Linked DNA regions of Homo sapiens. The protein of the gene in region 1 purifies or fractionates together with the protein of each later gene. This does not show direct contact. Each region holds a gene or a part of one and is shown in the gene's direction. Other genes may lie near its edges.

Region 1 (3,500 bases):
GATATCTCTGATCTCTACTTCTAGACTCCAGTAGCAACCTTCCCCCAGTTGTGAAAACCAAAAATGACATCAGACATTGCCAAATGTCCTCTGGGAGGCAAGACTGCCCCTAGTCAGGACCACTAATTTATTCCCATCTATAATAAATGCTAGCTCCAAAACATGCAGGCATTTAGACTGCCTGTGGTCAAACTCCTGAGCCCATAAATTTTGGCCCTTGGGAGTGGAGTCTAGGATAAGGGTCCTCAACCAGTTCATTCTGACCCTGTGATATTAACATAATGGTGTCCCTGATACTTTAGGCTGTTTTGGGCTAATGCATCTCATTGCTAATCATACTATAAAAGGACAGGGAGGCTGATAAATTCTGTGGCAGCTTATTTGAAAATGCAGAATGAAGAAATGAAAATGAGCCCCTCTCCCAGATTGATGCCTAACAGTTGAAATATATGTCATAAAGTATGTACTTGGGCTTGTCCCCCCAGAGAGCCTCTCAGGTTCTCACTCAGCACCTCATAACTCCTACTTCACTGATAATGCTGACCAATTTAGCAGAATGCTTTTCCAGCTTGTAGTAAATAGAGTAGACAAGCTCCTTGAAGTAATCAGAACTCCTGGCAGTCGTAAGAAATGATAGCTGGCATCTTCAGAAAGCAAGCCTAGATCCACATGAATTCAACAATCAGAGGCCATTTAGTTTGGGGGCACATTATAAGGTACTATAAAGCACCTTAACTCAAGACTTCCAAAAACCTGAGTTTGACTCTTACCCCCACCTGACAGCTGTGAGGCCTTGGGTGAGTTATTAACCTGAGGCCCAGTTCCCATGTCTGCATAAGTTTCCGTGTCCTATAAGTGTTGCGCTGACTCTAGGACTGAAAAGTCCCAAACTCAGTGCCTGGCATTGAGTAGGACCTCAGAAAAGAGGAGCAGTTTGTTTTTTGTTTTGTTTTGTGACAGGATCTCACTCTGTCACCCACGCTGGAGGGCAGTGGCATGATCTCAGCTCACTGCAACCTCAGCCTCTCGAGTAGCTGGGATTACAGGCACGTACCACCACGCCTGGCTAATTTTTGTTTTATTAGTAGAGACAGGGTTTCACCATGTTGGCCAGGCTGGTCTCAAACTCCTGACCTCACGTGATCCACCTCCCTCAGCCTCCCAAAGTACTGGGATTACAAGCGTGAGCCACTGCGCCCAACTGAGAAGCAGCTTTAAATACATTTCAGTCTGGGCATGGTGGCCCAGACCTGTAATCTTAGCACTTTGGGACGCCAAGGCAGGAGCCCAGGAGTGTGAGACCAGCCTGGGCAACATGGGGAGACCCCATCTCTACAGAAGAATAAAAAACTAGCTGGGCCTTGTACTATGTTCCTGTGGTCCCAGCTACTCGAGAGACTGAGGCGGGAAGATCGCTTGAGCCAGAGAGATAGAGGCTGCAGTGAGCCATGATGGTGCCACTGCATGCCAACCTGGGCAACAGAGGTAGACTCTCTCTCAAAAAAAATAAATAAATACACTTCAGCAGCCTCTGAAGATGCTAGTATTATATGACAGCTCAAGGCGATGGTAATTCTGAATCATTAAGATAAGATTATGTTTGATACACCCAACAATACTGTTTAAGGAGGCTGAAAAGAATATAATCAGTCTTAGAAATATTTCCATAGATAACGCTTACTGTGTACTGACCATTCCAAGTAATGAACAGACATTAACTTATTTAATCCTTCCATTAATCTTTTAAGGTGGGTACCGTTATTATCCCTATTTTACAAATGAGGAAACAGAGGCATAGAGAGGTAAAGTAACATGCCCAAGATCATACCAGGGAGTGGGTGAGCCAGGATTTGAACCTGGGCAGACTGACTTCAGAGTTGAGGTTCATAATAACCTCCGTACAACTGCTAGCTTTGTCCTAAATGGAATGACTTTCAGTTCCTTTGCACCCTGCAGTGATTCTGTCTGTGGTGGATGAATGGGCACAGAGAGAGAACTCTAAGCTGCATATCCCAGCAGGATCGCAGTATGGCGGTGCTCACAGGGGACTGTGGGGAGTCTGGAGCTTCCTGGACAGTGACCACAGTGCTCCTTGCCCCCTCTCTCCCCTCCTCTTGGCACTTCCCCTCTTAGGCGCACCCTGGCTGACATCATCATGGAGAAGCTGACTGAGAAGCAGACAGAGGTTGAGACAGTCATGTCAGAGGTGTCGGGCTTCCCTATGCCCCAGCTGGACCCCCGGGTCCTAGAAGTGTACAGGGGGGTCCGGGAGGTAAGAGCTGAGAGGGGAGCCATGGTGGAAGACCCCTTTGGGGGCTGTGGGCTCCTGCCACAGGCTTTTTTGCCTTTTGCCTGCATCACATACTAAAGAAGTCATGGGAGTAGAAAACAGACCTAAGAGGCAGAGTGTGTGGGTTCAGATTCCTGCTCTGCCTGTAAATGACTTGGCATCCTTGGGTCGGTTACTGGAACTCTCACTGGTCATCTGTAAAATGAGCATAATAATGGCACCTCCTTATAGGTTATTGTGGGGATGCAATGAGTTAATATATTAAAAGCACCCAGACAAGTTCCTAGCCCACAGCAAGCTTGCCATATGTGGATGACGATGATTGTTTTACCTCCCTCATCCCTAGGTATTATCTAAGTACCGCAGTGGAAAACTGCCCAAGGCATTTAAGATCATCCCTGCACTCTCCAACTGGGAGCAAATCCTCTACGTCACAGAGCCGGAGGCCTGGACTGCAGCTGCCATGTACCAGGCCACCAGGTAGAGTAGCTGGGGGTTCGGGGGCCTTGGGTTTATAGGTGCAGGCTGAGTTTGGGACGGACAGGCTTTCCTTGCCTCTGGCCCCAGGGCATTTGAGCTTTGCCCCAGGGCCCTCTCTGTGCTACTTTATAGCATCATTTTTCTAGCTTTTCCTGTGTCATTTTTTGGGGCCAAGACCCAGTTAGCCAGTTAGGAACCCTCCGTGATGAATTTCTAGGGGAGAGGCTTTTATAGCTACTGGGATACAACCCTCTGTGATGAATTTCTAGGGGAGAGGCTTTTATAGCCACTGGGATACAACCCTGTAGCAGGACCCTCAGAAGTCTGTGACTGCCCAGGCATGCTCAGGGCTACTCAACTGATGCTGAGTAGCCATCAGTTTGCACGAGCTCTGGCTCTCCCACAGACAAACGGTGCTCCTCATTTGGGTATATCTCATTGCCCCTCCTATTCTCTCTCTAAGCTGATGGGTGTTGCATGCACACAGCTCCCACACATCCCCCACTGAAAGAAAGGTCCCATATTTTACTTTAAAACCTCTTGTATGCACTATCCATGGTGATATTTAATGGGCCGGGTCCAGACTGTCGTGTGAGTTGGAAACTTCCCCCGCTTAACTCCCACTAGGATTTTTGCCTCTAACCTGAAGGAACGCATGGCCCAGCGCTTCTACAACCTTGTCCTGCTCCCTCGAGTACGAGATGACGTTGCTGAATACAAACGACTCAAC
Region 2 (3,500 bases), on another chromosome or scaffold:
GGTTCAAGCAATTCTCTTGTCTCAGCCTCCTGAGTATCTGGGACTACAGGCACCTGCCACCACGCCCTGCTAATTTTTGTATTTTTAATGGGGACAGCGTTTCACCATATTGGTCAGGCTGGTCTCAAACTCCTGACCTCAGGTGATCCACCCGCCTTGGCCTTCCAGTGTGCTGGGATTATAGACGTGAGCCATCGCGCCTGGCCAGATGTGTTTCTTTTTTTTTTCTTTTCTTTTTTTTTGTTTTTGAGATGGGGTTTTGCTCTGTTTCCAGGCTGGAGTGCAGTGGTGCGATCTTGGCTCACCACGACCTCCACCTCCTGGGTTCAAGCGATCCTCCTGCCTGAGCCTCTGGAGTGGCTGGGACTACAAACATGTGCTAACACGCCCAGCTAATTTTTGTATTTTTAGTAGAGACGGGGTTTCACCATGTTGGCCAGGATGGTCTCGATCTCTTGACCTCGTGATCTGCCCACCTCGGCCTCCCAAAGTGCTGGGATTACAGGTATTAGCCATGGTGCCTGGCTGTGTTTCCCTTCTTATATCCTTTTCCCATGCCACTTCCTTCCCATTTTACTCCTTTTTTCCTAGCTTTTATGTACATGTATACATATAGACATATGCCTAGACACACATACATATTAGCTTTTTTTTTTTTTTGGAGACAGAGTCTCTGTCACCAAGGCTAGAGTGCAGTGATGTTGTCATGGCTCACTGCAGCCTTGACCTCACCAGCTCAAGTGATCCTCCTGCCTTAGCCTCCTCAGTAGCTGGAACTACAGGCACATGCCACCATGCCCAGCTAATTTTTGTATTTTTTGTAGAGCCAAGGTTTTACCATGTTGCCTTGGCTCGTCTTGAACTCCTGGGCTCAAGCGATCTGCCCACTTTGGCTTCCCAAAGTGCTGGGATTACAAGCACGTACCACTGCGCCAGGCTTACATTGTAAAAAATGGGCCGGGTGTGGTGACTCACTCCTGTAATCCCAGCACTTTGGGAGGCCAAGTCGGGCGGATCACGAGGTCAGGAGATTAAGACCATCCTGGCTAACACGGTGAAACCCCGTCTCTACTAAAAATACAAAAAAAATTAGCCAGGCGTGGGGGCGGGCGCCTGTAGTCCCAGCTACTCGGGAGGCTGAGGCAGGAGAATGGTGTGAACCCGAGAGGCAGAGCTTGCACTGAGCCAAGATCGCGCCACTGCGCTCCAGCCTGGGTGACAGAGCGAGACTCCGTCTCAAATATATATATATGGAATCCTAATTTCACATTTTATGCAACTCGCACTTGCCACTCAGCAGAATGTCTTTTATTTCGTAGTATGGATACGTATAATTTGTTTGATCAGTTAATTGAAATTTGGAGGCTTTCCAGTGGTTATCAGCAATTCTATAGTCAACATCTGTGTTCAGTATATCTTTTTGTATGTGTAAGAATTTTTTTGTATTGTAGATTTCCTAGAAGGAGAGTTGTTGAGACATAGGATATATGCATTTAAAGTTTTGATGGATGTCTCAAATTGTCCTCCCAAATATCTGTTCTCATGTCTTGAATCTTTTTATTTTTTTTGAGACGGAGTCTCACTCTGTCACCCAGGCTGGAGTGCAGTGGCACTATCTTGGCTCACTGTAACCTCCACCTCCCGAGTTCAAGTGATTCTTCTGCCTCAGCCTCCCAAGTAGTTGGGTCTACAGATGCGTGCCACCATGCCTGGCTAATTTTTGTATTTTTAGTAGGGACAGAGTTTCACCATGTTGGCCAGTCTGGTCACGAATTCCTGACCTCAAGTGATCCACCCGCCTTGGCCTCCCAAAGTGCTGGAATTACAGGCGTGAGACACTGCTCCCAGCCTCATCTCTTCAATCTTGAACATGTTACATTTATGACAAATCAAAGGTAGTGGCTAGTAAACTCCAAAAGGTTTTGTTAGTTCAAAGGTTTTTTTTTTTTTTTTTGAGACGAAGCCCCTGTCGCCCAGGCTGGAGTGCAGTGGCACGATCTTGGCTCACTGCAAGCTCTGCCTCCCGTGTTCACGCCATTCTCCTGCCTCAGCCTCCCAAGTAGCTGGGACTACAGGCGCTGCCACCATGCCCAGCTAATTTTTTGTATTTTTAGTAGAGACAGGGTTTTCACCGTATTAGCCAGGATAGTCTTGATCTCTTGACCTCGTGATCTGCCTGCCTCGCCTCCCAAAGTGCTCGGATTACAGGCGTGAGCCACCGTGTCTGGCCAAGTTCAGAGGTTTTCTTAAAAATTGTGGTAAAATATATGTAACATAAATTTTACTATTCTAACCGTATTTAAATGTATAGCTCAGTGGCATTAAGTACATTGACACTATTGTACAACCCAAAGAGTGTTGTTTTGATTAGAAAATAAGCAGCTTCAGGAAAGGCATAGATGACTCTGACTTTGAATTCAGTGGGATAAAGGAAAGTAGGATGTTTTGGTGTCTAGTACTAGAAGGACAAAAATGCCTTCCACAGTTTGTGTTTCAGTGCCTTTGTCAGAGATGGAATGTTTAGGTGGGCAGAGTTATAAGAACACTCCAGCCATGGTAGACAGAAGCCCACAGACCAATCAAAATACATTGAGTCTTGGTTCTTGGTTCAGGACAGGATTAAAAAAGAAGTGGGGGTAGGGAAAGATTGCTTGTTGTAAAGTATAAAAGCCTGGACACGATGGAAGTGATTTGCATGTGCTTCTATTTGTTTGTGTGTTTTTCTGTGTTCAGATTGTCTTTTTATATCTCACCATTTCAAAACGATTTGTTTTGGTTATTAAAGATATATACGGTATTTACCTTTTAACATAAGATTAAAAAATTAGTAAATGAAAATTTGAAAGAAAAGAAAAATGATACAATCACTATGGTATGAATAGAACACAGAATTTGTGCCAAAGAAAGTGTAATTTGTTTGTCCCTGAGCTTCCTAGTAGCAAAGAAAAGAGGGAAACACAGTCATTCCGTGGTCCATAGGATTAGGACAATCCAGAACTCAGGATTAGTATAGCTTTCCCCAGAATAGAGACCTCAGAACATTTACCCTTGAATTATAAGTAAATGATTACTGTAGAAAACCTGATCTTCAATCACATCTCTGAAGTCAGTACTGTGATAAGTTTAATGGAACTGTTTGTTACCATGTCCTTCAATCTAGACTGATGGCATAATGTCAAAGTACAGTGCAGGAAAGGGACCAGATGAAAATGATTCAGATGTGTAGCCTGCTGATGTTCTGACTTGGCCAAGAATAAAATTAGAGTAGCTACAGTAATGCTTATTTCTTAAGTTCATTTGAGTATGAACTCCATAATTTTGCCGTGCTTGTGTTTCATCTATAGTATTGTTCACTTAATACAGTGTTTTTTGTTTTTTGTTTTTGAGATGGAGTCTCGCTCTGTCGCCCAGGCTGGAGTGCAGTGGCACAAACTCAGCTCACTGCAAGCTCCGCCTCCCTGGTTCACACCATTCTCCTGCCTCAGCCTCCCGAGTAGCTG
Region 3 (2,866 bases), on another chromosome or scaffold:
GGAGAATCCACTGCTGGTACCACTGGAGGAAAAGGCAGTACTGCAGGAAGAACAAGCCAACCTGTGGTTCTCAAAGGTAAGGAGAGGCCGGGGGCAAGACTGCGGGGAGATGAGTCTTCCTTGGGAGAAGGGCAGCTGATGTTCTCCTATCACAGGGCAGCTTTGCTGGGATCGAGGACGATGCCGATGAGGCCCTGGAGATCAGTCAGGCCCAGCTGTTATTTGAGAACCGGCGGAAGGGACGGCAGCAGCAGCAGAAGCAGCAGCTGCCACAGACACCCCCTTCCTGTTTGAAGACTGAGATAATGTCTCCCCTGTACCAAGATGAAGCCCCTAAGGGAACAGAGGCTTCTTCGGGGACAGAAGCTGCCACTGGCCTTGAAGGGGAAGAAAAGGATGGCATCTCAGACAGTGATAGCAGTACTAGCAGTGAGGAAGAAGAGAGGTGAGTAGTTGCAGCTGAGAGAAGGGATGGAAAGGAAGCGGTGGCTTGAACCATTTCTCTAAATTGGGGGTTCTTAATCTTGGCTGCACATGGGGAGGGTTAAAAATACTGTACTGACGATCCTGATTTAACTGGTCTGGGGTACAGCCTGCATGGCAGGATTTTTGCAAATTCCGTGGGAGTGCGGTCTGAGTAGTACAGAGTGGTGGAATCACTCAGAGTCCTCCCCTCTTCACAGCTGGGAACCCCTCCGTGGTAAGAAGCGAAGCCGTGGGCCTAAGTCAGATGATGACGGGTTTGAGATAGTGCCTATTGAGGACCCAGGTGAGAGCTCTGTATGCAGTGGAATGAGAAAAGACCACTGGAAGTCTCAGTATTGGGAATTGAGCTTTGACCTTTCTCCTTCCCTCTCTAGCGAAACATCGGATACTGGACCCCGAAGGCCTTGCTCTAGGTGCTGTTATTGCCTCTTCCAAAAAGGCCAAGAGAGACCTCATAGATAACTCCTTCAACCGGTAAAGGGGCCATAAACTCATCAAGAGTGACCCAGGGTCTGGTGGGTAAATGGGTAATTTTTTGTTTTTGAGATGGAGTCTCGCTCTGTTGCCCAGGCTGGAGTGCAATGGCACGATCTTGGCTCACTGCAGCCTGATTCTCCTTGAATCGCTTGAGTCAGCCTTCTGAGTAGCTGGGATTACAGGTGCCAACCACCACGCCCAGCTAATTTTTGTATTTTTAGTAGAGATGGGGTTTCACCATGTTGGCCAGGCTGGTCAAACTCCTGACCTCAGGTGATCTGCCCACCTCAGCCTCCCAAAGTGCAGGGATTACAGGCGTGAGCCACCGTGCCCAGTCTGGTAATTTCTTTAGAAAGCCTGGAATGTTGGATATTAGACAGATGTCCTTTCCACTCAGGTACACATTTAATGAGGATGAGGGGGAGCTTCCGGAGTGGTTTGTGCAAGAGGAAAAGCAGCACCGGATACGACAGTTGCCTGTTGGTAAGAAGGAGGTGGAGCATTACCGGAAACGCTGGCGGGAAATCAATGCACGTCCCATCAAGAAGGTGGCTGAGGCTAAGGCTAGAAAGAAAAGGAGGGTAAGTGATGGGGCCTCCAGAGATTGGGTGGGGTGGGGGTGGGGGGATGGGGAAGAGGTCACCTGACAGGTTCCTTTGCAGATGCTGAAGAGGCTGGAGCAGACCAGGAAGAAGGCAGAAGCCGTGGTGAACACAGTGGACATCTCAGAACGAGAGAAAGTGGCACAGCTGCGAAGGTAATGGGAGGACACCACAAAGGTACACAGGGCTAAAAGTGCAGCAGAAAGCAAGCCTCTAACCTCTTCTCTTCCCCCCTGTAGTCTCTACAAGAAGGCTGGGCTTGGCAAGGAGAAACGCCATGTCACCTACGTTGTAGCCAAAAAAGGTGTGGGCCGCAAAGTGCGCCGGCCAGCTGGAGTCAGAGGTCATTTCAAGGTGGTGGACTCAAGGATGAAGAAGGACCAAAGAGCACAGCAACGTAAGGAACAAAAGAAAAAACACAAACGGAAGTAAGCAGAGCTGCCAGGCTCCCAGGAGAGCATGGGGACTAGGAGGAAGGGTGTGGCATGGCTCAGTCTGGCCCCCTTGATTACCGGCCTAGCCCCTGCTCACATCACAGCTGTCTGAAGAACAGTGAGGTGGAGTGCCTAGAACTCCCGTGGTGGTCCTGAGCAGAGAGGAGGATGTCCTCCTGCCTGCCTGAAGGTCTCCCATGAAAACACTGCTGAACTGTGTTGACACTCATGACCCTTTTTTTAAACCGTTAAAGGGAAGTTCGGTGTTGGAGCGATACTCAATGTAGTCAGTCTACACCTGGACGTGTGGGCCACTTAAGCCCTCCCCACCCCCATCCTATTCCTGAATAAAACCAGGATAATGGAAGAGTTGTCTTTTCTGACAGTTTTAATAAGCACTTCCCTATCTGTCCCTACACTGTGTGCGGCACTATTCTTAATATGTACCAATTCATAGACAGAAATGACAAACGATCCACAGGTCCCGGTAGTAAAACATTTACTAGAGAGCAAGCAGAAAGGAATGCACATCTTAAAGAAACCTTCACAAAGTCACAAAAGTCAAAGTTTGTATATTTCTTTTCCTTTTTATAAACGATAAACAAAAATCATCAAAATCATTTCAGCAAAAGACTTTTCTATCATTGGGGCAAGTTAAAAAAAATACAATGAGATAGAAGACACTTTAAAAGCTGTTGTTGGGTTTCTTGTTTAATTTTAAATTTAGCAATACCATCTCAAACCTGGAGCAATCCTGGAACAGTTACCAGGATCACCTTTTCCCTTCAATCCTTGTGGCTTCTGGGAATCTTCAGAGCCTGGGTCTGAAAGGTGTTTCCTACATGTCTCAGGGCTGGATGCAAACCT
Region 4 (3,500 bases), on another chromosome or scaffold:
GCTTTTAAATATTTCATCATCTTTCGAGTCTGATAATACAGAAATAAAGTTGCTTTTTGAATGATTGTATTCATTAATGCTGTAAAGTCCCCTTATTCAAATAACTTCATGTAGATTTTTTTCTGCATATATTATCACATCTTTAAATAATTAGAGTTTTATTTATTCTTTTTTAAGTTTCTGGGACCCTTAATACAATGTTGAGCAGAAGTGATATGATAGTGTGCCTTCTTGTCTTATTCTTCTTAAAGGAGAAGCTATCAGCAAATCATTGAGAGTAAAGTGTTTGTTGGTGTTTTTTTTTTTTTTTTTTTTTTTTTTGGTGTGTGGAAGCTCTTATTACGTTAAGTTTACTAAGACATTTTTATCTTGTATGGATAATCAGTTTTATCAAATATCTTCTGCTTCTGATGAGATTATGGTATGACTATTTTAGTTGGTTCATGTATTCAGTTAAACTGATGTTTCAAATATTAAACAAATTTTTCTTTTTAGAGTAAACCTAACTTGCCAGCATTCAATTTGCCATTATTTTGTTTTGTGATTTTCATATGTAAGTTTATTTAGTTTTCTTCAGATGTCCTTGTAAGATTTAGATATCAAGCTATTCTAGGTTCAGAAAACAAGTTGAGGGTTTTACATTTCTTTTATTTGAAAGAGGTCTTTTAAAAAAAAAAAAATTAAGTGTATTTTCTCCAAAACTGTTTAGTAAAAATCTGTGTCTGATGGGATGCTTATGGGTTCTTTTATTATTATTTCTTGTTTGCATCTATATGCCTAGTTATTTTAATTGTGCACTGGAAATTCTGTTTACAAAATTCTTTATAGATAAAAATTTGAAGCTTGGGATGAGGGTAGCTTTTTTTCAGCAAGGTTTTATGTTCCTTTCTGCCAGGAAAAGAGGCCCCAACCTCTGCACTCACCTCCCCTAGATGTCTCTCATTCCCTAACCTCTTGATTTACAATTCTTTGTTAACTCCTTGTATCTTCAGGCTACTTTTCTAGCTGTCCACAGTGGGGTGGTTGGACCAGATGACCTAGGGAATCAGAGCAGAAGTCACTCCCATTTTCTGTGGTTTTAGATAGTTCCTTTTTCTTTTGCTTTTCTGTCTCGCGTCACCTAAACTACTAGAATCTAGAGAGTGTGCATTATGTATTCCAGATGTATAATAGTGTATCTTTTGTTTTTGTTGTTTGTTTCTACAACTTTTATACTTTATTAGGTGACTTTATTTAACAGAAAGTTTGTCATTTCTGGTATTTCTCTCAACACAGAAAAGCCAAGTTGTGTGTTAATTTTGGTTATGTTTAAATAAGTTTGTAACCTTTGCTGACCTCACAACTTATGTTTTGGTAGGGAAAACTAAAGCTGAACAATATTTGGGCATTTGGACTTAGAAGAGAGAGTAGTGGCTTGTTACTCTTTTTAAAGCAAGCTAAAATCGTTTTAAATGTAATGCTTTACAGGATCTATTTTAAACACACACTCTTCCTTTACAGAACGCTTTGGATAAACAAGAAGAATTGACACCTCTTGGAGTCCACTTGGCACGATTACCCGTTGAGCCACATATTGGAAAAATGATTCTTTTTGGAGCACTGTTCTGCTGCTTAGACCCAGTACTCACTATTGCTGCTAGTCTCAGTTTCAAAGATCCATTTGTCATTCCACTGGTAAGAAAAATGGAAATAAAACCGAGTTATTTTAGATGTGAACAGGAGTTGCTTAGATATATTTTTCATTAGCGTTTTATTAGAATGTCATTCTCCATTATAGCATCAGAGCAATTTAAATTGGCTATGTCTGCTATTTTTAAGGGAAAAGAAAAGATTGCAGATGCAAGAAGAAAGGAATTGGCAAAGGATACTAGAAGTGATCACTTAACAGTTGTGAATGCGTTTGAGGTAAAAAAAAAAAATTTTGTCCTGGATTATGATAGTTTATTCAAATGAAATGCTAATAATAGAATAAGGATCATATTTAACCTTTTGAAATCTCTGTTATAAGGCCGGGCGCGGTGGCTCATGCCTGTAATCATAGCACTTTGGGAGGCTGAGGCAGGTGTATCACCTGAAGTCAGGAGTTTGAGACCAGGCTGGCCAACATGGCGAAACCCTGTCTCTACTACAAATACAAAAATTAGCTGTGTGTGGTGGTGGGCATTTGTAATCCCAGCTACTCAGGAGGCTGAGGCAGGAGAATTGCTTGAACTCCGGGGCGCGGTGGTTGCAGTGAGCTGAAATCATGCCACTGCACTTCAGCCTGGGCGATGGAGTGAGACTCAATCTCAAAAAAACCAAAAAACCAAAATCTATATTATCATAGGTATCAGGAGTAAATTACTGAGAATGTTGAAATTTAGCTGAACATTTGAAAAAAGTTATAATTCATTTTTAATTTTGTAATAGTTCATTACATTTACCGTTTTGGGGAAATAATAGTTTTTGGTAAGAATGAACAAGTGAATAGTTTATTTTAAAATTTTGTATTTAATAATTTCTTTGTATCTTTGGCTTATTAACGCTAATGACAGTCTCTTTCTATTCATTAATAAACTACCCTGTATTCAGATTTAACATGTAATAGAGGATCATAATCATGTACATAATTCAGATTAAAGAGACATTTTCTGCTCCCAAAAGCCACGTGTATCTGAGGGTAAACATTTATCACCTATCTTGGTAAAATTTAAATGTAATTTGGTTTTTAGAGGCAGTATCTTTTTTCTGTGGCTCTACATTCTGTTTCATGTGACATATTATGGGAAAGTTCATGTTTTTTTGTCTTTGAGCTTATTCAGCTTGTCTTTCCTTTTTCCCCATTTCCCTCCTCTTAAAAAAAAAAGCAAACTATAAAGAAAATCTGTGAATTTGAAAATATATAATAGCATTTAAGTCAGTTTAATAGTGTGTTCTTTTTGATTAGTGTATTATGTACAGTTTGGATGCCATTTTGTGTAAAATACATAATTAATATATTACTATATACTTAATTGTATAAAGGTCTGGAACTTCAGTGGTGGTTGTCTCTTAAGGACTAGGATCATGGGGAGTGTATGTGTTTTTAGTTTTATCAGTTATAAAATTCTTTGAATTTTTTACAAAGAAAATTAAATATTAGTAGAATATTAAGCTTTTACTAAAGTAAAGAGGGAAACCAGTAGTAATCTTTGTTTGCGGGAGAAATATAGATTTCTTCATTTCTTTGCCCCATAGGGCTGGGAAGAGGCTAGGCGACGTGGTTTCAGATACGAAAAGGACTATTGCTGGGAATATTTTCTGTCTTCAAACACACTGCAGGTAATGGTGAATGTTTTGCAGTAATTATCATATATGCTAGATTAGAGAATATATACATCCATTTTGTACAATTAGATCTATAGCAAAAAAGTCAAATATATGGAAATTGAGTATATTTGTATATATACACAAAGTAATGGGGGATCTTTCTGAAATCAACTGCAACAAAACAAGGAAAAGAAACATGGTTCCAGAGGATA
Region 5 (3,500 bases), on another chromosome or scaffold:
CAGCAGGTGGAAGAGGGTGGAGACTGGAGAGGGTAGAGGCTGGGAGAGGGTGGAGGCTAGGAGACCGTAGAGGCTGGAGAGGGTGGAGGCTAGGAAAGGGAAGAGGCTGGAGAGGGTGGACACTGGGAGAGGGAAGAGGCTGGAGAGGATGGAGGCTGGCCCTGGCAAGCAGAGCTGTGCCTCTGGTCTCCCCTGGCCTTGTCTTCTTGTCCTCTTAGTTTTGTCTAGTGAGGAGTCAACTCTGCCTTCCTCAGAACTGACCCAGCTGAACCTCGGGGTCCTCCAGAGAATGGGGGAAATTAGCTTGAGGGATCTTCTCACCCTCTTAAGAGTTAGAAAGATCAAGCCCCACCTGAGCCTTCTCTGCCTCTTCCTCTCTCTTTTTCCCGTGTCCCTGCCGCCCGGGTTCTGGTGCCACCAGCTGAAGGAGGATACAGAGTTCCAGGAGTTTCTGTCAGTTCATCAGAGGCGGGCGCAGGCAGCCACTTGGGCGAATGATGGCCTGGATGCTGAGCCCTCGAAAGGGAAGAGCAAGCCGGCCAGTGACTACCTGAACTTCGACTCCGATTCTGGGCAGGAGAGTGAGGAGGAGGGAGCCGGGGAGGACCTGGAAGGTGAGGGCATGGGGACTGTGTGCTCCATGCGCACGGACCTGTGCTTGCCATTGGGCTAACCGGCACTGGGGGCCCCTCTGTGCAGACTCTAGGAGTCAGGTGAGCCCTTGAGCTCTCCATTGGGGGTGATGATCCCTCTGCAGGTGCATCTGTCTTCACTGATCCTAGTTGTGTATTCAGTCAGTCAGTCAACAAATATTTCTTGAGCACCTATTATCTGCCAGGCATACTTCAGGCATTGGGACCATGTTGATAAGCAAAAGACAGAAGGGTTTATTCCCCTATGGAGCTGTGATTATGGTTGTGGAGAGAAACAATAAGCAAATAAGTCCACTGTTGGGTATATCATAGGATGATGAATGCTACAGAGAGAAAGCAGGAAAGGCGACAGGAGAATTATGAGGGAAGGCCTCCCTGAGGAGGTGAGGGAGTGAGCCTTTGTCCTCAGAAGGGGTTTGTGGTGTGGGGGAGGCCTGGTGGGCAAGAAAACAGTTGCAACACAGGAGGGTACGTGCTTGGTGGAGAACTGGGCATCTATTTGGGTCTAAAGGTGAGAAGATGTACATTTAGTGCAGTTATGCCTGGTAACGTTTCTGCACTAAGTTCACATCCGAGGAACTCAGGGGACTTAGTGGGACACGGTAGGGGAGGGGAGAGGAAAGGGGTTCCAGTCAAGGGAACAGCATCGCAGAGACACAGAGGAAAGGAAAGTGCATGGGCTTGAGGGGCTCAATGTGGGTTGGGATGGCTTGAGCAGGAGGAGACAGTGGAAGAAGCCCACGCAGCCAGCCCTGATGAGGAGCCTGGATTTCACCCTGAGCATTCAGAAACCCCTGGAGGGTATTAAGCAGAGACTGACCGTCCTGTACCTACTCTGTAAAGTGTCACAGAGGCTGCCGTGTAGAGGACTAGGAAGACATGGCTGGTGGCAGGGAGCCAGGAGCTCAATGTGTGGCACAGAGAATATCAAAGCTGCAGTAGCCCTGCCCCGTTTTGGTATTGCTAATCAGAGGACTTATGGGGGATGCTGGGCACAGGGGCCATGGACACGGTGGGCATGGTGCCTCAGGCCTCTCACTAGGAGGACCATCTACCATTTGCTACCTCTGACCTCTGGTTTGCTCATAGCTGTCGCTGATCCCAGCTTCCCTGTTTTTCCAGAAGAGGCAAGCCTCGAACCAAAGGCAGCTGTGCAGAAGGAGCTGTCGGACATGGATTACCTGAAATCCAAGATGGTGAAGGCTGGGTCGTCCTCTTCCTCGGAGGAAGAGGAAAGTGAAGATGAAGCCGTGCACTGTGATGAAGGGAGTGAGGCCGAGGAAGAGGATTCCTCCGCCACCCCAGTCCTGCAGGAAAGAGACAGCAAGGGTGCAGGCCAAGAGCAAGGGATGCCAGCTGGGAAAAAGAGACCACCGGAGGCCAGAGCCGAGGTGCGTGTGTATCCCGCAGGTGATGAGGGAGGAGGTGCGCTCTCCTGCTTGCCCGTGGTCCCCACAGCTCCTCTGTTAGGAGAGCGGAATGTTGGGGAAAGACGCAGCTCTGCAGTCCAAAGCCTTCCCGATCTTGGCCCTGCCGCTTGCTCGCCGTGTGTTCTTTCTGCGTTTCTTTTCTGTTTTTATTTTTATTTTATTTTATTTTATTTTTTGAGACAGAGTCTCACTCTGTCACCCAGGCTGGAGTGCGGTGGTGCAATCTCAGCTCACTGCAACCTCCGCCTCCTGGGTTCAAGTGATTCTTCTGCCTCAGCCTCCTGAGTAGCTGGGATTATAGTCACACCCAGCTAATTTTTTGTATTTTTAGTCGAAATGGGGTTTTGTCATGTTAGCCAGGCTGGTCTCAAACTCCTGACCTCAAGTGATCCACTCATCTCAGCCTCCCAAAGTGCTGGGATTATAGGCATGAGCCACTGCACCCAGCCTCTGCATTTATTTTCTGTTGCTAACCTGGAGAGGTCACCTGCCTTCCAGAAATTGCCTATAAGTAGGGTGACAACTAAATTATTGTCAACACTAAGTTAAAAGTGAGATGCTAGTCCAGTGGGGTGCCAGGCTGTGGATGTAGTTACTGCAGGTCTAATGACTACAGATAGAGTGAACAACTATCCCGGGCAAACTGGAGCAGCCCCGGTCAACACACCCATATCCCACCAATGGGGCAGAAGTGAGCTGAGTGATGGCTTTGAGCCTTTATCCTTTGTATTTAGTAACAACACAGGCAGAGGGGTGCAGACCAGTCATCAGCAATCATAGGGAGGATCAACTGAGCCTGCGCTACACACTAGGCACCATGCCTGCCGTGCCGTTGCATCTCATCACTATCTGGAGGGCAGTATTGGTCTTGTTCCATTTTACAGATGAGGAAACAGGCCTGGAGAAGGAAGGTGCCTCAGCCAGGGTCATGGCTGGGAAATGGTGGGTTCAGGACTTAGCCCCAGGTCTGTGGGGTCTGAAGTCGAGATCATAAACGTGGGCGCTTCCCCAGAGGTCGGCCAACTCGTCTCTGACCTGGGAGTCCTCTCTGCATCAGAGACAGAGCAGTTTGACATGTTGTCCAGGTCCCTGTTCCCTCCTTTCTCTGTGAAGCATCACTTCTCTCCCTGCCTAGCCCTGTATTTTTTTTTTTTTTTTTTTTTTTTGAGACAGTCTTGCTGTCGCCCAGGCTGGAGTGCAGTGGTGTGATCTCAGCTCACTGCAGCCTCTGCCTCCCGGGTTCAAGTGATTCTCATGCCTCAGCCTCCCGAGTAGCTGGGATTACAGGCACACACCACCACACCCAGCTAATTTTTGTATTTTTAGTAGAGATGGAGTTTCACCATATTGTCCAGGCTGATCTTGAGCTCCTGGCCTCAAGTGATCAACCCACCTCAGCCTCCCAAATTGCTGGGAT
Region 6 (3,500 bases), on another chromosome or scaffold:
ATATTCCAGATAATGAGAACTAATATTTTTAGAGGCAGAGATGGCTGATGCCTGCCCCATCTACCCCCTTCCTGCTAGAAGCCAGTGACACTCCCTCCCTCTGCAGGGACAGACCTCAGAAGTCTTCTCGGTGTATGCTGGGTTTGGTGGCTCACACCTGTGATCCTAGCACTTTGGGAGGCCGAGGCAGGCAGATTGCCTGAGCTCAGGAGTTCGAAACCAGCCTGGGCAACACGGTGAAACCCCATCTCTACTAAAAATACAAAAAAATTAGCTGGGCGTGGCAGCGTGCGCCTGTAATCCCAGCTACTGGGGAGGCTGAGGCAGGAGAATTGCTTGAACCCGGCAGGTGGAGGTTGTAGTGAGCTGAGATTGTGCCACTGCACTCCAGCCTGGGCGACAGAGCGAGATTCCATCTTTAAAAAAAAAAAAAAAGGTCTCAGTGTAGCATGCAAGCAGCCTCTGTCCGTACAGAGTTCATCGAGCAGTACAGGCTAGCACATGTAATGTGCTCCCATCTGATTGCCAGCTAGACCTTGTGATTTAAATAGTGAGATGTTGTTTTAAAATTTTGCTCTGCGGATAAAGAATGGTGAAGGTTCAGAGAGCTTAACCTGATTCAGTACTGTGTGTGGTTCACTATCAGCATCCAGCAGGATCTCGCTCTGGAATGGCTCGTAACAGAAGCGGAGAGAACAGAGCAATGGCGATGGAGCCCTCTGGTCTATCTGGGGACACTCGCTGTCTTTAGACTCTGGTTCAGGAAATTGTACCCAAGGTGGTTTGTTTGTGTTTTTTGTTTTTTTTTGTTTTTGAGACAGAGTCTTTGTCTGTCGCCCAGGCTGGAGTGCAGTGGCACAATCTCAGCTCACTGCAAGCTCCACTTCCCGGGTTCACGCCATTCTCCTGCCTCAGCCTCCTGAGTAGCTGGGACTACAGGCGCCCGCCACCACACCCGGCTAATTTTTTTGTATTTTTAGTAGAGACGGGGTTTCACCATGTTACCCAGGATGGTCTTGATCTTCTAACCTCGTGATCCGCCCGCCTTGGCCTCCCAGAGTGCTGGAATTACAGGCGTGAGCCACCGCGCCCGGCCCCAAAGGTGTTTTTAACAAACATTGTTTAGCACTGCCACGGTAGGAAGTTACTAGAAGTTACTAGGGATTAATAACTCAGCGTGTGTCAGTTGAAACAAATTGGTTCTTGAAATATTCTTGAAGAAAATGACGAAAATTGCCTTGGCAGTATTTATTGAACTAATGGATGGTTTCCTACTCTTCAGGTAGCAGAGGGGTTTTTCATGCATTTTAAGTGTAATAATAGCACTTTCACATTTCAAAGTGAGATAAGAGAAATGGTTTTTTCACATCCTTTTCTCCTGTCCACATGATTAATATTTCGGTTGACCTCTCCAGATGGAATGTGCTCTAAATGGAAAGGAGGGCCAGGTCGTGCTTCTGTCCCTGCTGGAGCATCTTCTGCTCTTGCCCAGCTGCTTCTTAACCCCTTCCACTCTCTTTTCCTCCTCTTCCAGCTCCTGGTTTTGACCTTAAATCTGGGTTTCTTAGCCTTTAAGTTCATCTCCGACCCTGGGGAAGTGACCTATGTCTGGAGCAAAATCTGACCTGTCCCCTCCTGAAACAGAACTTGGAACCAGAGTGGCAGTGACCAAGTCACCACACGCTCCCTCCTGCCACACGCACGCATTCTTTCAAAGTGACTTCACAAATTAGAGGAATCCCTGAGGAAGGCAAGGAACACTTAAGTCGGGTTAGATGAGAGGTTTCAAATGTCTGCCGAGGCACCGATTTGTGGTGGGTTTGTAAAACCACTGAATTGGATCATTCCAAGGGCCTTCCATGGCATCAAGATTTTGCCTTGATGCCATTTCCTTTCGGAATTGCTGTGTAAACACCAGTGTAATGGCAGTTCCTTAGCAAATAGAAGAAGTTCCGCAGCAAGAAAGAGTTTGCAATGTGGCCATCTCAGGTTGCAGAGGCCACTCGTTCCTCACCCATCTCTGTCCTCTCACAGCTTTCTTTAGGGAATTCAACCTCCAGGACAGCCAACTTTGAATACTGTTAAACTTGGTCTTTTTTTGTTGCTGCTGGGAAAATAACCAAATTATTTGATACTTGCTAACCGTATTTAAAATATTGCTCCTCTTGGTGTTATAAAGGTGAAGCCCCTAAACTGTGACCTCGCTAACTTGTTTATTGCCTTGTGTCTAGTATGAACTCACAACTACACATTTCTTAGGAGTACCTTTGATGGGAAATAGTACCCTCCTCCATGACGGAAGGAGTCTAAACCCATTTCCACTTTTCCAAATGTGCACGTTTTAAACCTTAAGGCAGCTGTTACAGCCGAGGGAGCCATTCATGCCTTGAGCTTGACTAGTGTGTTCTTTTTTACCCTTCCTTTTGGCACCGGTAGACTCTAAAGAAGAAAAGAAAGTGATTGCCCCATTATCCTTGAAAGTTGTTTTGCTCTTCTCAAAATTCTGTGATTAGTAGAGAAAGCCTATCGTGCATGAAAGCAGATTGGGTGTGAACTTTGACATCACTGTGCATAGCCCTGAACTTTAAAGTATGCACTGTTCTGATGTCCCCTGTAGTGGAAATCACAAGAATTTTTTGTGAGATTGTTTCTGACCTGTTTTCCAGCGTACACAGACTTTACTAAAAGAGTACAAAGAAAGGGATAAATCCAATGTATTCAGAGATAAACGCTTCGGAGAATACAACAGCAACATGAGCCCCGAGGAGAAGATGATGAAGAGGTTTGCTCTGGAACAGCAGGTATGGAAAGAAACTGGAGGAGGGTTTTTGCTGTACATTTCACAGGGAAGTCAAGGCCAAGGAGAAGGCTGACTCTGCATGTTTTGCATGTTCCTGGGCACTCGGAAGGTCCAGGGGATAGCCCTCGAATCCTGTGCCTTATCTGGCTAGGCCAAAGGAGAAGCAACCTCTTCTGCAAATGTTAGCTGAATGGATAAATGCCTTAACTCTACTACACGGCAGCAGTGTGCACAGGAGTTCTCAGCTGAGCAGCATTGCTGGAGTGGAAACTGGCCCCTGGGCTTATTTAAGAATTCCCCTCCATGAGGCCGGGCGCGGTGGCTCATGCCTGTAATCCCAGCACTTTGGGAGGCTGAGGTGGGTGGATCATGAGGTCAGGAGATCGAGACCATCCTGGCCAACGTGATGAAACCCCGTCTCTACTAAAAATACAAAAATTAGCCAGGCGTGGTGGCGCATGCCTATAATCCCAGCTACTCAGGAGGCTGAGGCAGGAGAATCACTTGAACCAGGGAGTCAGAGGTTGCAGTGAGCCCAGATCACTCTACCGCACTCCAGCCTGGGCAACAGAGCGAGACTCTGTCTGAAGGAAAAAAAAGAATTACCCTCCATGAGTTTCATTTCTGTCTGAATCATGAATCATTGCTTAGTTGACCCAAAATACTCTTTAAGGCTGCTTAGGATTCGTTGTCATATTTC
Region 7 (3,500 bases), on another chromosome or scaffold:
TATGTAATCTTGTCAATGAAAACACTCTGAAGGCAATAAAAGAAATGGGTTTTACAAACATGACTGAAATTCAGCATAAAAGTATCAGACCACTTCTGGAAGGCAGGTATGATTAACATTGAAGCTTAGATATTGGCATCTATTTTTAGAACTAGTAGATGATAAAGAACATACCAGTATATTCTGTTGATTTTGTACTATATGTTGGGTCATGTATCCAGCATACATTAAAGGCTTTAAGTTAATTACTGATGTTTGAAGGAAAGTGTTCGAAAGGTGTTCTGCTTCTGTTGTAGCACAGTTCTGACTTATGATTTCAGTATATAACCCAGGTGATCAATTTCAGCACTGTAGACGTTTCTTGTTCATGTTCTAGCCGTAGTGCCTAAGGTGTGTGTATGTAGTACGTCGTAAATGAGTAGGCTAAATGTCTTTCTCCTTTCCCTTTTTAATATTTAGGGATCTTCTAGCAGCTGCAAAAACAGGCAGTGGTAAAACCCTGGCTTTTCTCATCCCTGCAGTTGAACTCATTGTTAAGTTAAGGTTCATGCCCAGGAATGGTAAGCGTTCATCTGCTTGTTTCTGCCATTATTTCACTAGAGGTTTATTGTAGCTGTTACGGACTCAGTGGTGACAGCCACATTTAGACTTCTACCATATATCATTTTTAGGAACAGGAGTCCTTATTCTCTCACCTACTAGAGAACTAGCCATGCAAACCTTTGGTGTTCTTAAGGAGCTGATGACTCACCACGTGCATACCTATGGCTTGATAATGGGTGGCAGTAACAGATCTGCTGAAGCACAGAAACTTGGTAATGGGATCAACATCATTGTGGCCACACCAGGCCGTCTGCTGGACCATATGCAGGTAAGAGATGTAGTGCTTGTCTCATTGTCTTGTATGAAACATAAACTGACAACTAATGGTTGTTCTTTGTCCTTTGTTTTGTTAGAATACCCCAGGATTTATGTATAAAAACCTGCAGTGTCTGGTTATTGATGAAGCTGATCGTATCTTGGATGTGGGGTTTGAAGAGGAATTAAAGCAAATTATTAAACTTTTGCCAAGTAAGTAGGTAGCATCTGCATTTGGTTTGCAAAGTATCTGTTGGAGGTAGATAAGAGTTGTTCCTATAGAAAAACTGTACTAATGCCAGAACTTTACCATAGCCAAGTGAGGTAGTTGTGCCAATTAACCCGAAAGGTAATTTGGAATACAAGCATCAAATGTATTATAACTTGATATAATAGTTTTGCTGTTTTAGAAGTTATAAGGCACGTTAAGCAGTCTTCACATAGGTCCTGTCCTCCACCTCTTGCCCATTCTTACCTCATCTAACATCCCCCAAGAAGCCGCAGATTTTTTGCCTTACTTGTACATACCTTGGTTATAGTACTTGCAACATTATGAACTGGTTATAACTAAGACCATGGTTTCCTTCATTATATAATTTATTTTTAAAAGCTTTGTCAAAGTATAATTATATCTACCCATTTATAATGTACAATTTGATGTTCTTTGATTTGTTTACCACTGTGACATCATCGCTGCAATCAAGAAAATGAACATGTCCATCACAGTCAAAGGTTTCCTCCTGCCCCTTTTCAATTTCTCCCTCCCACCCCTCCTTACACGTATACCTTGTCCCCAGGTGAGTATTGATCTGTTTTCTGCTGCTAGATTAGGTTGCATTTTCTGGAAATAAAGTTGCTGTGAACAGTCATCTACAACTCTTTGTAGAGGCATATATCTCCTTTTCTCTTAAGTAAACCTAGGAGTGTCCTAGTTGGTATATGTTTAGTGTATGTTTAACTTTTTAAAAAACTGCCAGATGTTTTCCAAAGCGGCTGTACCATTTAACATTCCTATGAGCAGTGTATGAAAGTTCCAGTTCCTCCTATTAAGTCTTGACCATCAGGTAATGTTAGCCCCAAGTTTGTTCTCTTTTAAAGTTGTGGTATTCTTGTCCTTTGCTTTTCTATATAAATTTTAGAATTGGTTTGTCAGTTTCTCCCCCTTCCCTCCAAAAAAGTCTCAGATCTTGACTGAGATTTTATTGAATAGAGATTATTGGAGGAAGACAGTATTGAGTCATGTAACCCATAATAAGGTATATCTCCATGTATTCGATATTTTCTCTATCATATTTAGGGGGGTTCGGGATACAGGTTTATTCACATCTTTTGTCAGATTTATCTCTGAGTGTTTCATTAAAATTTCAAGTTCCAATTGCTCGTTGCTTTAATATATACATATATACACACACACATATACACACATATATATGCACACACAGTTGAATTTTATATTGATCTTGTATCTAGCAAGACAGTTAATCCTGTACCGAATGATTATTCAGTATGACTTTCCAGATGACTGTAGCCTTTTGGATTTTCTATATAGGCAATCATGTGCAGATAAAGACAGTTTCACCTCTTTATTTAATTTTTTTTTCCTGCCTGATTGCCCTGGCCAGAACCTCCAGTATGGTGCTGAATAGAAGTGGTGAGAGCAGACATCCTTATCTTGGTTCTGATCTTAGGGGAAAGCATTCAGTCTTTTACCATTAACTACATATGAAGTTAGCTGCAGGTTTTATATAGATGCCTTTTATCAGATTGAGGAAGATCCCTTCTGTTCCTAGTTTGCTGAGGATTTTTAATCAGAAATAGATGGTCAAATGTTTTTTTTCTGTCTGCTGAAATAATCATGTTTTTTCTTTAGTTAACATAGTGAATTGTATTGGTTGATTTTTCAAATGTTGAACCAACCTGCATTTCTAGAATAAACCTGATCCATTTCTAGAATAAACATGAGCCATTATCCTTTTTATATATTGCTGAATTCACTTTACTAAAATTCTATTTCAAATTTTGTATATGTGCTCACGAATTGTATTGGTCCATAGTTTTCTTGTCATGTCATGTCAGGTTTTTGTATAGTGTAATGACTGACTTCGAAGAATGAGTTGACATGTAAGCCCTCTTTTTAATTTATTGGAGAGTTTGTGAATAATTGATGTTTTTTTCTTAAATGTTCAGTAGAATTCACCAATGGAATCCATTTGGGCCTGGAATTTTCTTTACATGAAGGTTATAACTAAAATTTCTTTAGTAGATATAAGGCTATTTAAAGTTTTCCTATTTTCTTCAGTTGTTTGTCTTCAAAGGAGTTTGTCCATTTCATCTAAGTCCTCAAATTTATAGACCTAGTGTTTCATGATATACCCTTTTTACCTTTTGTAATATTTGTAGATTCTGTAGAAACATCATATCTCCCATTTCTGATATCTCTACCTAGAATATTTGTAGTTGTGAGGCAATTGTAAAGATTCCCTAAAAGATTGGGGTTATTTTTATATGTATCTGTTTCAGCACGTAGACAGACTATGCTCTTTTCTGCCACCCAAACTCGAAAAGTTGAAGACCTGGCAAGGATTTCTCTGAAAAAGGAGCCATTGTATGTTGGCGTTGATGATGATAAAGCGAATGCAACA

What was found.
Region 2: the proteins of BYSL (region 1) and PARN purify together in Homo sapiens (affinity purification with mass spectrometry; 4 studies listed by BioGRID and IntAct, with this or other methods). This does not show direct contact.
Region 3: the proteins of BYSL (region 1) and FTSJ3 purify together in Homo sapiens (affinity purification with mass spectrometry; 2 studies listed by BioGRID and IntAct, with this or other methods). This does not show direct contact.
Region 4: the proteins of BYSL (region 1) and DHX36 purify together in Homo sapiens (affinity purification with mass spectrometry; 3 studies listed by BioGRID and IntAct, with this or other methods). This does not show direct contact.
Region 5: the proteins of BYSL (region 1) and RBM19 purify together in Homo sapiens (affinity purification with mass spectrometry; 3 studies listed by BioGRID and IntAct, with this or other methods). This does not show direct contact.
Region 6: the proteins of BYSL (region 1) and NOP14 purify together in Homo sapiens (affinity purification with mass spectrometry; 4 studies listed by BioGRID and IntAct, with this or other methods). This does not show direct contact.
Region 7: the proteins of BYSL (region 1) and DDX18 purify together in Homo sapiens (affinity purification with mass spectrometry; 2 studies listed by BioGRID, with this or other methods). This does not show direct contact.

Annotation. Positions count from the first base shown.
Region 1 is NC_000006.12:41,927,999-41,931,498, forward strand, and holds part of BYSL (bystin), read left to right. Parts: intron 1-2,133; coding exon 2,134-2,272; intron 2,273-2,636; coding exon 2,637-2,770; intron 2,771-3,397; coding exon 3,398-3,500. UniProt on the Homo sapiens protein: Required for processing of 20S pre-rRNA precursor and biogenesis of 40S ribosomal subunits. May be required for trophinin-dependent regulation of cell adhesion during implantation of human embryos.
Region 2 is NC_000016.10:14,620,261-14,623,760, reverse strand, and holds part of PARN (poly(A)-specific ribonuclease PARN), read left to right. Parts: intron 1-3,500. UniProt on the Homo sapiens protein: 3'-exoribonuclease that has a preference for poly(A) tails of mRNAs, thereby efficiently degrading poly(A) tails.
Region 3 is NC_000017.11:63,818,933-63,821,798, reverse strand, and holds the end of FTSJ3 (pre-rRNA 2'-O-ribose RNA methyltransferase FTSJ3), read left to right. Parts: coding exon 1-76; intron 77-155; coding exon 156-445; intron 446-683; coding exon 684-769; intron 770-860; coding exon 861-960; intron 961-1,360; coding exon 1,361-1,544; intron 1,545-1,625; coding exon 1,626-1,720; intron 1,721-1,804; coding exon 1,805-1,997; 3' UTR 1,998-2,366; downstream 2,367-2,866.
Region 4 is NC_000003.12:154,282,988-154,286,487, reverse strand, and holds part of DHX36 (ATP-dependent DNA/RNA helicase DHX36), read left to right. Parts: intron 1-1,500; coding exon 1,501-1,674; intron 1,675-1,818; coding exon 1,819-1,905; intron 1,906-3,216; coding exon 3,217-3,300; intron 3,301-3,500.
Region 5 is NC_000012.12:113,956,326-113,959,825, reverse strand, and holds part of RBM19 (probable RNA-binding protein 19), read left to right. Parts: intron 1-421; coding exon 422-614; intron 615-1,775; coding exon 1,776-2,044; intron 2,045-3,500. UniProt on the Homo sapiens protein: Plays a role in embryo pre-implantation development.
Region 6 is NC_000004.12:2,956,907-2,960,406, reverse strand, and holds part of NOP14 (nucleolar protein 14), read left to right. Parts: intron 1-2,666; coding exon 2,667-2,801; intron 2,802-3,500. UniProt on the Homo sapiens protein: Involved in nucleolar processing of pre-18S ribosomal RNA. Has a role in the nuclear export of 40S pre-ribosomal subunit to the cytoplasm.
Region 7 is NC_000002.12:117,821,191-117,824,690, forward strand, and holds part of DDX18 (ATP-dependent RNA helicase DDX18), read left to right. Parts: coding exon 1-106; intron 107-459; coding exon 460-560; intron 561-671; coding exon 672-871; intron 872-956; coding exon 957-1,071; intron 1,072-3,378; coding exon 3,379-3,500. UniProt on the Homo sapiens protein: ATP-dependent RNA helicase that plays a role in the regulation of R-loop homeostasis in both endogenous R-loop-prone regions and at sites of DNA damage.